4 linked regions of the Homo sapiens genome follow. The protein of the gene in region 2 purifies or fractionates together with the protein of the main gene of each other region. This does not show direct contact. Each region holds a gene or a part of one and is shown on either strand. Other genes may lie near its edges. The genes, in order: CDIN1, UBN2, CABIN1 and NASP.

Region 1 (4,192 bases), on a different chromosome or scaffold from region 2:
GGAGAACGTCATTCAGTTTTACGTTTTACACACGCTCCTGCTTTCTGGCTTTGCATAATTCATTAGCATAGTGTGCAGAATGCACCATAAAACAAGATTTGGCTTTAATGTTAATGTTCTAATGATGACAGCAATAAAAATAAGTTGTCATTCCGTGTCTACTTTCTGGGGCTGATGTTTATATTGTCTAAACTAAAAAAACCAGCAAGCAGACAATGCATAGAGATGGAACACAGACAAGTATTTTTAACAGAAAAAGAAACAAACCAAGGAGACTTTAAGCTTCCAGTTGGGAACATTACTCTCTTCTCTCCCATACAGCTCCAATTCAAAAGTAGTATAATTATCACATTAGTTTTTATGTGTGAAAAACTTACTTTTGACTAATTTGTAACCTTATTGTAGTGTGTACAGTTTACTGTTGGGTTCTTTCTCACTTTTAAGGGCCAGATTTTAAAGCCTCATTCATAAAGAGGAGGTAGTGCCTTTGCTAGGAACACCAATACCTTCTCACAACACATTATGTCAGGGCAGCAGGTAAAAGAATAAATACAAAACGCAAGTACCTTTTTTATTTTTTAATTTATTTGTTCACGTTCATCATAATAAATTTGTTTAATGTAAAATAAACAAATCCTTGACAAGGGTTTAACAGGATTTTCAACATCTGTGCAGATAAATGTAATTTATTCCTAAAGAAAAAACAGTTTAGAACATGCCAGGAAACCTGCTTTTAACATTTTTGTATAAAGTGTGTGTGTGTGTGTGTGTGTGTATCCAGGCAATACAGTAGTGGTTTCAAATCATTCTATTTCACTCAGAAGCCTGCATGATGAATTTTATACTGAAACAGAAGTTTGCCTGACCCTTCTTTAGCATTTCATCTTCTGCCTCTCTCTTTTGATTTAATGCACCCCACTCAGAGTTAAAATCCACACATGTTGGGACCAGGTTTGTGTCCTTCAAAAGGAAAAGCAGCAGGCATATTTTTACAAACCTTCTTTGGTAGAAAATAAACAAAGTATAAATGACATATTTAGTCTTTTGAAAAAAATCAAGCAATGTATATAAGTTAAAGCTGTCTGCAAAAATTACATTGTTGTTATTAGTATTTCCCATATCATCTATTCAACATTATAAAAGTTGTTATGTCAGCATGGCAGGGTGGCGGGGGCAAATATTTTACTAAATACGTTTTGGGTACAGATTAATATTCAACTTCCCAAAAGATAGGTTTATTATTAACTTACTGATGTTTCGCTTTAGACTGAAATCTGATTTGCAGTACATAAAAGTACACAAAAGTGAATAAATTAAAGTGAACAAATAGAAAAATCTCCTTTATTTTGCTTATTTAAAAATTGCTCCAGGTTTATTTCTGGCACACTCAGTTCATACAAAGCTAAACATTTCTAATGCTGAACTTACTCGAGTGTTTTATAATTACATGGTATAAAATGCATATACTAAGCAGTATACAGAATGTGCCTTTAAAAAACTCGACTCATAAAAATACTAGCTCACGTACATACTGACAACTAGCCATGTTTAAAAATAAACTCTCCTCAATGTTGGGTTGTCGCCTCTCGGCCCCCAATCTAAAGGAGTGTGGTTTCCAGGCACAATGGAACTAATACTTTCAAATAAGATAAATCTAAAATATGTGGTGTTCAAATAACATTATTAAAAGAGGAAATTCTCATCAAGTGTATTTTTGCACTTGGCTTACTGTCACAGAAGTCAGGAAGCCGTAAAGATTGAATATAGCAAACACACAGCATAGGCAGGCTGCCATCAAGGTCTTCTGGAGCTCTGCAGGTGAGTACAAAGGTGGCTTTGGACTTTGTGGCTTCAGCTTTCCTAGGTTTGCGCTAGATTATTCCACGATGGTAATGCAATGCTGGGTCTCTGTGAGTGCACATGAAGAGAAAGGGAGAGGGAGAGACAGTGAACGGAGGCTTAGGGAAAAAAAAATAAGAGGGTGATTCGGTAACTGGGAGGAGAATTGAAAAATCACACCTTTCAGTCTTCACATTTTTTCTTTTGTTCAGCATACAAGGATAAACCATCCGGAAGAAAGAAAGATTATGACTATCTATAAACTAATTGTTTGACAGAGACAGAAATGCTGATAATGAGTGGGTTGTGTCTGTAGTTCTTGGCTGTTCACATCAGCAAGGGATGAAGGAAAACAGAAACTCTTGATATGTTTGTCTAAAGAGGTAGTGGTGTGACTACGGGCAGCAAGAGTTCAGCTGAAGTTCAGGGCAGATGTTGCCAGGATCTTACAGTGCAGGAAAGTAAAATTGCTTCCGGATTCACCTTTTCCTCCCAGCTTCTCTTCCAGGATCTTCAGGGTCAAGCTATGCTGTGGCATAAGGTGACAATGTTCGTGGGGAAACAGGCTTTGAGCAGGATGCCCCTTTCCCGGTTGCAGTCCAGCTCCTGGATAAATCCATACCAATAGATGACTAAGCCTGGCCCAAATCTGTAAAAACACCAGAAAATAACACACACACATGGTATCAACAGAGCTCTTGAAAAAAGTCACCTTGGGGCACTGATAAGATGATTAAATGACAGGACTGCACAAAATTTTTGTTTTGGTTGCTACCATTGTGACTGAAAATAGCCAAACTTATACCAAAGAGTTCACATAACACACATACTACCTTCTCGGATGGATGTGTTCCCTTTCTTTCCAGAAACCTGAAGTATTTCAGATATGGAAACTCTGAATCTTACCTTTCAGTAAGGTGTTATGAGCTTGGGCTGATGTGACTACCTAGCTGATGGAGGACAGATTCACAGTGCAAACAGGAATGAGCTGGGGAATGCCAGCCTTGGGATTTAAGTCTAACATTTAATGGTACTATTTAAAAAATTAAACTTGCCTAATAGCAACTAAGAAAAATAAAAGAATGTTTGAAAACAGAATTTAAAAAAATGCAACAACTTATGGTCCTCTTCTGGCTATACTGTTCTACTTATGCACCCATTGGGCTGGAAGTACCTCCTGTCATCCATATGACACACTGGGTCCCTTTACTCTCTGCATTACAACTTCTTTAAGTGTGGACACAGCATAAAGTTTGGTCATTGGTGCTTACGGAAATGAGGAATAAGGTCATATAGGCTTGTGACAAAGTATAGATCGCTACGGGCTTAATAAAACCTCAGCATTTCTAAGTTGTGCCCTCTGAATTATCTGCAATTTTGTTAGCAGTGACTGATCCCCGCCAGGCAGACTCAGGAAGTGGCCCTATGGACTACTTCACCCATCAGGAAGTTGAGACCTTTAGGCTGGGTTCATAAAGATGTAATCACTATCAATCACTGCACACAGAGAGATGTTTTGCACATCAGTTTCACGTTTTTCCTACCGAGGGCACTTAATTAAAGGGCAGCACTACTTTTGGTGTAGTGTTGCAGGAATTTTACAGTGAAATAATAAATTATGAATGTTGGGTTAGTAAAAGCATGTCTAAAAACAGAACTGCTTTCTGTATTCTAACATTACAGCAGGCTGAACCATGCTAGGCCAAAAAGCTTTTGCCTTCCATGATTTATTATATGCTGTAGTGTACTTGCCAAAACTAACAATACAGGATGGGCTGCGAGATACTGTATGCACAGGGACAAGTTCAATTGGATGTCACGGCCTGGTTTATTTGGGGATCCACATTAGTGGGGTAGCCAAGTTGTATTCAAGATTATTTAAAACTTTGGGATTCCCCTCTGTGCAGGTACAGAACCATGAGATGGCAGCTCATCACTTGATCTTGTTCTAGAAGATGTAGGAACTGGGTATAATTAGAAGCCTTGGAGCACCAGGCCCACTGAGATTTATCAGCTGCAGATGTTCTCTTCTTCCTCAGCATCCCCAAAGAAGAGATTCCTTTGGGGTCAGTAGAATTAGGCTACCTGTGCACAGGTGTGTGGGTCCCCAGGCTCAAATGCATACAAGACGAAGCTCACACCTGCAGAAGAACTTGCTTCCATTTAACCGAGGGTTTCTTAGTAACTTTTAATCACAAACACTTGTCTGTAATTGGAACATAAACCATTGGTACCTTTATTTTACAAAGAGCTCTATGATTAGTGTCAAATGATCTCAGATTTGTCAAAACAAGTCTGGCAAGAACAGAAAGATTTGTGATTCTGTGGACCATGTCTGAGAAGCCACAAACCT
Region 2 (3,573 bases):
TGTAAATACCAATTTTCCAATATCTACATAATTTAATTTTAAAGCATGTAATTATATATTCATGACACAATGGTTTGTATTTTACTTTTCCTTACATTCACACGTGTGACACAAGTAACATTAAAAAAAATCCTATTAATTGAACATTCTCAGTACTGTTGCAATGTTTGATAAACTCACCTTGGGTGGCTTGTGCTTTTGGTTGTCTGTAATATCATCTTCTTCAGTATCTGAAGCTTGGCGAAACTGTAGAGTGCCAGTGTTGATATAAAAGCCTCCATATTTTGTTGTTAGAGAAGCGGGAACTAATTCATCATACTAGATTAAAAAACAAAAAAGTTTCCGCTATATCCTGTTGTCTTTAACTCTATAAATGTCAAAGAAATTCATCCACCATGGCAGCATCTCCCTTAAATCCTAACTGCAACACAGACTGCAATAAGGATGTTTGTAAAATAAATTTAGAAAAGGTTACTATCTGAAATAAAAATTAGTTCTGATAATTTGGTGTAAGAAAAAAACTTCTGAAATAATAAAGTATATTCTAAATATATCACCTGCTAAGAAAAATTTAAGGATCACTGCTACTATTCCTTTTTCTTCCTTCCCACTGCTACTATTCTTAATGACAAATGGTTCTGATGAGAAATCAAGTTTAAAAAGATGACCAAGTGTCCAGATAAGGAGTAAATTTCATTTCCTACCATAAGGAGATTTTATAAAGAATAACAAAACTGGCTGGGTGCGGTGGCTCACGCCTATAATCCCAGTTGGGAGGCTGAGGCGGGTGGATCACCTGGGGTCAGGAGTTCGAGACCAGCCTGGCCAACATGGTGAAATCCTGTCTCGACTGAAAATACCAAAAATTAGCTGGGCGTAGTAAGCCCAGCGACTCAGGAGGCTGAGACAGGAGAATCCCTTGAACCCAGGTGGTGGAGGTTGCAGTGAGCCAAGATTGCGTCATTGCACAAGAGTGAAACTCGGTCTAAAAAAACAAAAAACAGCAACAACATTCTGTTTAACAGAAACTATTTTTTCTGTCTTAGCCGTATGCTTTTAAGTGGAGAAAACTTTAAAAACATTTAATTTAGGCCGGGCATGGTGGCTCACGCCTATAATCTCAGCACTTTGGGAGGCCAAGGCAGGTGGATCATGAGGTCAGGAGTTCAAGACCAGCCTGGCCAACATAGTGAAACCCCATCTCTACTAAAAATACACACACAAAAAATTAGCCGGGCGTGGTGGGGTGGGTGCCTATAGTCCCAGCTACTTGGGAGGCTGAGGCAGGAGAATCGCTTGAACCTGGGAGGTGGAGGGTGCAGTGAGCCAAGATCATACCACTGCACTCCAGACTGGGTGACACAGCGAGACTCTGTCTCAAAAGAAAGAGAAAAAGAAAGAAAAATAGCAAATATATTTTAGAAAAAGAATAGCACATATTTTAAAAGAATTGAATAGCATAGAAAAACAACTGCCCAGTTCAGAAAGCACATACTTGAGGACCTAGAATGAGGAGGTACTTTGCTTGGAGCAAGGAACTCAATTTGTTTAAATCACACTTATGTTCCCAAAGGCTAGATCTCAAGGTTTATCATTACCTCACCTGATAAAGATGGCTAAAAAGCAAACACTAAGTGAAGGACAACTTAACCAAATGAAGGTGTTCAAAGTAGGAAAGAAAAAAGGAACTTATCTGATTGTAGAAAGATATCTGTTACCTGGGATCTCTAGACCTCTACTTCCGAGGTTCTTCACATCATCTAACTAGTCTTTAAGAAAGTCAGATTTTTAGGGAAACTTCATTGCCATGGGCAAGGAATATACATATCCTATTAGTTACTGTAAGAATATAAGGCTAAGTACAAAAGTTGTAATTTTAACCTGTATCTTTTTCAATTATATGGAGAATGGAAAAATGAAGAGGTTCCAGTTTAATCACACTGAATTAAAAAGAAATAAAATGATTGAAGAAAGGTAAAAGAAAAAAACTACTTTCTTATCGTTCTACTTGATACACTACTAGAAAGATCTACTACAAACATCTACACTATTATAAAGATCTTACAGAAAAGGGGCAGTACCATCTGCAAATAAGTGATATGAGGGGTGAGGGATTAAATGTGAAAAGACAGTAATAATTTCGAAAACTAACTGTGATAAGATAAAAACACCTGTACTCTTTGCCTACATTGTTTTGTACAATGCTTTATAATTTTCAATACTTCTTCATATAAATTATTTCATTTGGTCCTCATGATACCCTTGTGAGGTAAGAAAGGCAAATATTACTCCCACTTTAAAGATGAAAGCCAGGTAAGCACCTTACCAAAGCAATTCTATACATATGTTTATGGCAAAGTCAGTGGCTGCCTCCAACCCATCTAATTTATTGTAAAATAAATTTAGAAAAGGTTACTATCTGAAATAAAAATTAGTTCTGATAATTTGGTGTAAGAAAAAAACTTCTGAAATAATAAAGTAAATTCTAAATATATCACCTGCTAAGAAAAATTTAAGGATCACTGCTACTATTCCTTTTTCTTCCAAGCAGCTTCACGTGGGAGTGAAACATGTTCATCTCCAGGTATACAGGGCAATTCTGATGTGCTCAAAGTCTGTTTTCTTATGCAGTATTCTGCTGAGCTTTTCCTATCCGAACACTCTTCAGAGGAATACACTCTTTGTGAATATTTAGTTCAGTCATTTCAGTAGAATGTGTTAAGAGGTAACACACTGAACTTAAGAATCAAAAGGCCTGGATTTAGATTCTTTGCCTATGACTAGCTACTGTGACCCAGGGAAAATCACTTAACATCAAATTTGGAGGGTTATAAAACAGGGACAATATTACTTCACAAAGTTCTAGTGAAATTTAAAAGAGACTATCTAAATAAAAGTGTGTGAATCATGCCTGGTATCATTATTTATTAATAATAAACAAAACATTTTCTTTCAGCTCTTTTACAGTTTGGTAGCATAAATATGAGACTAAAAATAATCTTCAAAAGCATTTATTTTCAGGTATTTATTTTTAGTAATTCGTGCATGATTCAGAATATATTAAACAATATGCCAACACTGAAAGCTTACTGGCAATACAATAAATGAAAAGAACAAGAATCATTTGGTTCGACCATAGTTGTTTTATGTCTGAATTATCTCATTAAAAAAAAACAAATAATATGTCAAGGGCAAAGACACTAAGTTATTTTGTTAAGTCACGCAACCTGCATTTCAGTTCAATTTCTTCTTATAAAACAGGAACCTACCTTGTTCAGAAACTAGTTGTATGACTAAGCAATTCGTATCTACAAAATTTATCCTGACTTATTAAAACAGAAGTTTTCCACTTTTCTTCACCACAGCCCAAGTGGAAAATACATTACCCATCAAAATCTAGCACACACATACACACACAATAAAAACTGTATAGTCTACCAATGACGTACTAGTTCCTATTCTATTTGATTTCATTTTCTTTAAAAATACCAGTCATGCCCTTTAAGTTGATATATAAGCCAATTATGGGTTACAAAAGTCAGCATGAAAATATCCTAAATGCTATAAAAGGAG
Region 3 (3,573 bases), on a different chromosome or scaffold from region 2:
AGCCATTCATCTGTCATGAACAGTTGGGTTGCTTTCACCATTTTTTTTTTTTTCTTAGCTTCAGCTTAAAGGAGGCCACCTTTCGACTATTGTAAGTAATGCTGTGTCCCTCAGTTGTAAAACGTTATTTATTTATTTAAAATAGTATGGTGCTCTTGTCACCCAGGCTGGAATGCAATGGCGTGATCACAGCTCACTGTAGCCTCAACCTTCTACCTCAACTGCCCTGAGTAGCTGGGACTACAGATGTGTACCACCATGCCCTGGCTAATTTTTAAATTTTTTGTAGAGATGGAGTCTCTCTGTGTTGCCCAGGCTGGTTTTGAACTCCTGGCCTCAAGCAATCCTTTCACCTCGGCTTCCCAAAGTGCTGGGACTAAAGGTGTGAGCCACCATGCCCATCCTGTTTCTCAGTTTTTAAGAGCTGTTTGTATATTAGGGGTATTAGTCCCTTGTCAGTGGTATATGTTGCAAATATTTTCTCCCAATTTGTTAGCTTTTAATTTTTTTTCTGAGTTTTTAAATTTTTTTTTGTCATGCAAAAATTTTTAAATTTTTATGTAGTTAAATGTATCACTCTTTTACTGTTTGTGAATTTTAAATCATATTTGGCCCTTCTCTACTACGTAATACTAAGTGTTAATACAAAGGTTAAAGAGGAATTCACCAGTATCTCCTTTAGTAGTTGTATGGTTTCATTTTTTATCATTTAGATTTCTAATTCATTTGCAAGTTTATTCTTGTGAGTTATCTTTTTCCAACAGTGAATACTGTTCCAGCAGTATTTAATACAAAGTTCATCTTGACTCTAGTGATTTGAGATGCCATCTTTGCCATATTTTTTATTTCCATATGTACTTGAGTCTAATTCTGGACCTCATCTTTTTGTGTACATATGCAGCAGTACCTCACTGTTTCATTATGAAGGCTTTGTACAGTAGGTTTTAATGTCTGTTATACCTATCCCCCCTTACAGTTTTTTTTTCATTGTTTTCCTAGTCTTAAATTTTTGTTTTTCCATATGAATTTTAGTATCAACTTGTCAATATTATCTTGTCAGTATTTGTATTGGGATTGCATTGAATGTATAAATTAACTTGGGAAGAACTGACATCTTTATATTTTTGAATCCTATCCAGGAACAGGGGATGTCATTTCATTTGTTCAAGTTAACTTTAGTGTCTTTTAATAGTGATTTAAACTTTTTCTTGCACAGTTTTAATTAACTTTATTCCTAAGTATTTAATGATCTTGTTGCTATTGCAAATGGGATTTTTCTCTACCATAATGTCTTCTTTTATGGTTTGTATATATGAAGGCTATTGATTTTTATGTATTAATCTTATATTGTGCAACTTCACTGAGTGTTGTTTTTTTTTTTTTTTTTTTTTTTTTTTTGAGAAGGAGTCTCACTCTGTCGCCCAGGCTGGAGTGCAGTGGGGCAATCTTGGCTCACTGCAACCTCCGCCTCCTGAGTTTAAGTGATTCTCCTGCCTCAGCCTCCTGAGTAGCTGGGATTACAGGCATGCGCCACCATGCCCGGCTGATTTTTTGTATTTTTGGTAGAGACAGGGTTTCACCATGTTGGTCAGGCTAGCCTCGAACTCCTGACTTCTTGATCCTCCTGCCTTGGCCTCCCAAAGTGCTGGGATTACAGGCGTGAGCCTGTAATTTTTGTATTTTTGGTAGAGACAGGGTTTCACCGTGTTGGCCAGGATGGTCTCGAACTGCTGACCTCAAGCAATCCACCCACCTCAGCCTCGCAGAGCACTGGGATTACAGGCATGAGCCACCATGCCCCGCCTGCTGAGTTATTATTGAATAAATTTTATCATTGATTTTGGGGTTTTCCAGGTAGTATATCATATTATCTACAATTAGTGATAGCTTTTCTTTACCCTTTTTTTTTTTTTTTTTTTTTTTTGAGACGGAGTTTCGCCCTTGTTGCCCAGGCTGGAGTGCAATGGTGCAATCTTAGCTCACCACAACCTCTGCTTCCTGGGTTCAAGCAATTCTCCTGCTTCACCCTCCCGAGTAGCTGGGATCACAGGCATGCGCCACCATGCCCAGCTAATTTTGTATTTTTAGTAGAGACGGGGTTTCTCCATGTTGGTCAGGCTGGTCTTGAACTCCCGACCTCAGATGATCCACTCACCTCAGCCTCCCAAAGTGCTGGGATTACAGGCGTGAGTCACTGTGCTTGGCCTTTACCCATTTTTATATCTCTAATTGATTTATCTCTTCTAATTTTATTGGCTAATATTGCACAGGTGGATAGTAGCAGAGATAGTGGACATTTTTGCTTTGTTCTTGATATTAATCTCTGAAATTAATGGACATGCCTCTGAAATAAGGTTTGCCCATGAAATAAGATTTTGGCTTTAGGACTAAGGTGTATTTATATATTAAAGTATCTCAATTTCTGTATTTTCCTGAGTATTTTTTATTATGAATAGATATTGAATTTTGTCAGACTTTCCCTTCTGTGGAGATAATCATGTAATTATTTTTCCCTTAGATGATTACATTGTGTTTTCACATGTGATGTGTGTTTTTTTGTTAGTATCTATTTTTTATTTTTTTATTTTTGATACGGGGTCTCACTTTGTCACCCAGGCCGGCATACAGTGGTGCAATTACTGCTTACTGCTGCCTCAACTTCTCAGGCTCAAATGATCCTCCTCCGTCAGCCTCCCAAGTAGCTGGGATTACAGGCATGTGCCACTATACCCAGCTAATTTTAAAATTTTTTTTGTAGAGATGAGGTCTCCCTATGTTGCCCAGACTGGTCTCAAACTCCTGCCTCAGCCTCCCAAAGTGCTGGGATTATAGGCAGATTACAGTCATGAGCCACCATGTCTGTCCGTTAGTATTTCTTTAAATTTCTCCAACATTTTCATTGCATTTCCTTTTATCTGGAAGTTGTTTATCAGGAGATTCTCAAATTTTTAGATAGACACACCTTTCTTCTGTTGGTGGTGATGGTCGTGTTAGTAAATTCTAGTTTTAAGCATTATGATTGGCAAGTGTTGTTTTTAGTATCTTTACTTGATGGAAGGTGTTTTCTTTGTGACATGAGCAGTTTTTGTGTGTGTGTGTGTGTGTGAATGTGCTGTGAGCACTGGAGAAGAATATATCATTTCTGTTATCAAGGTGTGGAGTTTGATATACATCTATATCATCTCCTCTGTTATGTTGTTTAGATCAATCATCTGTCTCCTCATTTTTTCTCCACTTGATTTGTCTTTAAAAAAATTTTTTTTTTTTGAGACAGGGTCTCACTGTGTATCCCAGGCTGGAATGCAGTGGTGTGATCATGGCTCACTGCAGCCTTGAACTCCTGGGTTCAAGTGATCCTCCCACTTCAGTCTGCTCAGTAGCTGGGACTACAGGTGCATATCACCATGCCTGGCTAATTTTTATTTTATTTATTTATTTATTTATTTATTTTAGAGATGGGGGTCTCACTATCTTGCCCAGGGTGGTCTCGGACTCCTGGAGTCAAAGGATCCTCCAACCCCAGCCTCCCAAAGTGCTGGGATTACAGGCATGAGCCACCAAGCCTGGCCATCA
Region 4 (2,249 bases), on a different chromosome or scaffold from region 2:
ATCACTTCAGGCCCCTCTACCGGAAGCACAGGGAGATAGGGTTGGGGTGAGGAGATGTGAATGGTAATCACTGTACAAGTTTGAATTCCTGTGTTTGAGTCAGGAAACAGAACAGGAGTTCAGAGTTCCCTGGCTGAGGGCAGTGGCTCACGCTTATAATCCCAGCACTTTGGGATGCCGAGGTGGGTGGATCACGAGGTCAGCAGTTCAAGACCAGCCTGGTCAGTATGGCAAAACCCAGTCTCTACTAAAAATACAAAAACTAGCCAGGCGTGGTGGCGGGCGCCTGTAATCCCAGCTACTTGGGAAGCTGAGGCAGGAGAATCACTTGAACCCGGGGGGCAGAGGTTTCAGTGAGCCGAGACTGCGCCACTGCACTCCAGCCTGGGTGACAGAGCAAGACTCCGTCTCAAAACAAAACAAAACACAACAGTCTCCACTCACAAATCCTTACCACCTTTGGAAAATAAGTGTCTTATATGCACCAACTATAGGGAGGGGTTTATAGGAAAGGGATTAAAAATGGAGTCTGAGGAAACGGTAGAAAAGAAACACCACATGTAGACTTACCTTCTTTCTGACAAGGTGGGAAATATCAGTCACACAATTTGATGAGGAAGCACCGTCTGTTGGCTTTCTACTGGCAATCTGGCAAAATAAGCCCTTATTAGCAATTGTACAAGCTATATGAGATCAATGCTGAGGCTTTTATAATTTTTTAGTTTTTCAGAGACAAGGTCTCACTATGTTGCCCAAGCTAGTGTTGAATTCCAAGCCTCAGGCAATCTTCCTGCCTTGGCCTCCCAAAATGCTGGGATTACAGGCATGAGCCAACACTGAGACTTAATGTAAGTGACCAAAAAACCACCTGAATACGCACCATGGAGACTGAAGAGCCTCCTCCACCAGGAGTGAAACCTGAAGTAGAACTCTCCACCTGCGAGAAATGACAAATCCAAATTAGTTTGAAGATAGAACCCAGGCCGCCCACAGCCTTGTAACAGGAACCCATCACCATCCAAACAACTGACTAAGACCTGAAATGCTAGTGGCCTCCATATAGTATCCAGTTCTACCCCTGGCCCACCTATGCCTGTCTAGCAGCCACCCAGAGCATAGTCTATACATAGAGTGTACATAATAAACTAAATCTTCTATATCCTACCTGCAGGGTAAAAAGGTCTGTGCCAAAAACAGAACCAGGCAATTTGTGGTGAATGCCTCTCAATGCCTCATTAATTTATGCAAATGAGTTCTTGGAGATGGAAATAGCAACTTACATTTTTTAAGAAATGTCTATTTTTCCAGTACTGTCAGAAGTATATTTTACACATATGTACTACAGGTCGGGCATCCCATCCCTTAATCCAACAATCTGAAACTTTTTGAGGACTGACTGACACTCAAAGGAAATGCTCTCTGGAGCATTTCAGATTTTAGATTAAGGGTATCCAACTGTTGAGTATGATGCAAATATTCCAAAATCCAAAAGCATTTGAAATGCAAAACACTTCTGGTCTCAAGCATTCAGGTAAGGATACTCAACCTGTATTATCCCCATTTTACAAATCGGTCAACTGAGGGAGAGAAAGGCCCATGGCCACACGTAAGTATGGAATTAAAACCCAGATAGTCTGGGGCTCCAGGGTATTTCCTCTTAACCACTGCATTACTTGATAGGAATAATTAGATGAGCCCACCAACTCCCTGGAAACCAAGTCATGATGAAAAGTTCCTGGCAAATAGAACATTAACATAAATGGTACCAAACATGCTATTATCAAAATGTTAACGGAACCAACCAGAGTAGCTTTCAGAGCCAGTTCAGCTACATTCCCACTACGCTGAGACTCCTTTGCATCTTCTATCTTCTCTCTAATTTCGGGTAGCAGTTCCTTTAGTTCCTCAATTTCTTTCTTGTATTCAGCAGACGATCCTTCAGCCTCCTTCACCTGCTCGTTTAGTACAGCTAAAAAGAATAAAGTGATTAGTAATGGCTCAAAAAAGAACTGTTTTCTTCCTTGTTAATTGCTGGATCCAACATCACCATGAAGCAGCTCGTCTTCACTCACCCATTCTGTTCTCAATGACTTCAATAGATTTGCTGAACTGTGCCACTGCCTCATCATACTGAGAGTTGTACCCATAAGCCAAGCCCAGCTGGTAGTGGGTCTCTGCAAGGAGACGGTCGTGGGCTTCCAGGTACTGTTCCTGCAGGTTAAGGCAGGACTGGAACTCCTCCACAGCTT

What was found.
Region 1: the proteins of UBN2 (region 2) and CDIN1 purify together in Homo sapiens (affinity purification with mass spectrometry, with the first as the bait; one large-scale study listed by BioGRID). This does not show direct contact.
Region 3: the proteins of UBN2 (region 2) and CABIN1 purify together in Homo sapiens (affinity purification with mass spectrometry, with the first as the bait; one large-scale study listed by BioGRID). This does not show direct contact.
Region 4: the proteins of UBN2 (region 2) and NASP purify together in Homo sapiens (affinity purification with mass spectrometry, with the first as the bait; one large-scale study listed by BioGRID). This does not show direct contact.

What each region holds. Positions count from the first base shown.
Region 1 is NC_000015.10:36,806,620-36,810,811, reverse strand, and holds the end of CDIN1 (CDAN1-interacting nuclease 1), read right to left. Parts: intron 2,489-4,192; coding exon 2,359-2,488; 3' UTR 568-2,358; downstream 1-567. UniProt on the Homo sapiens protein: Plays a role in erythroid cell differentiation.
Region 2 is NC_000007.14:139,255,233-139,258,805, reverse strand, and holds part of UBN2 (ubinuclein-2), read right to left. Parts: intron 319-3,573; coding exon 181-318; intron 1-180.
Region 3 is NC_000022.11:24,017,751-24,021,323, forward strand, and holds part of CABIN1 (calcineurin-binding protein cabin-1), read left to right. Parts: intron 1-3,573. UniProt on the Homo sapiens protein: May be required for replication-independent chromatin assembly. May serve as a negative regulator of T-cell receptor (TCR) signaling via inhibition of calcineurin. Inhibition of activated calcineurin is dependent on both PKC and calcium signals.
Region 4 is NC_000001.11:45,615,025-45,617,273, reverse strand, and holds part of NASP (nuclear autoantigenic sperm protein), read right to left. Parts: coding exon 2,073-2,249; intron 1,970-2,072; coding exon 1,803-1,969; intron 938-1,802; coding exon 881-937; intron 649-880; coding exon 571-648; intron 1-570. UniProt on the Homo sapiens protein: Component of the histone chaperone network. Binds and stabilizes histone H3-H4 not bound to chromatin to maintain a soluble reservoir and modulate degradation by chaperone-mediated autophagy.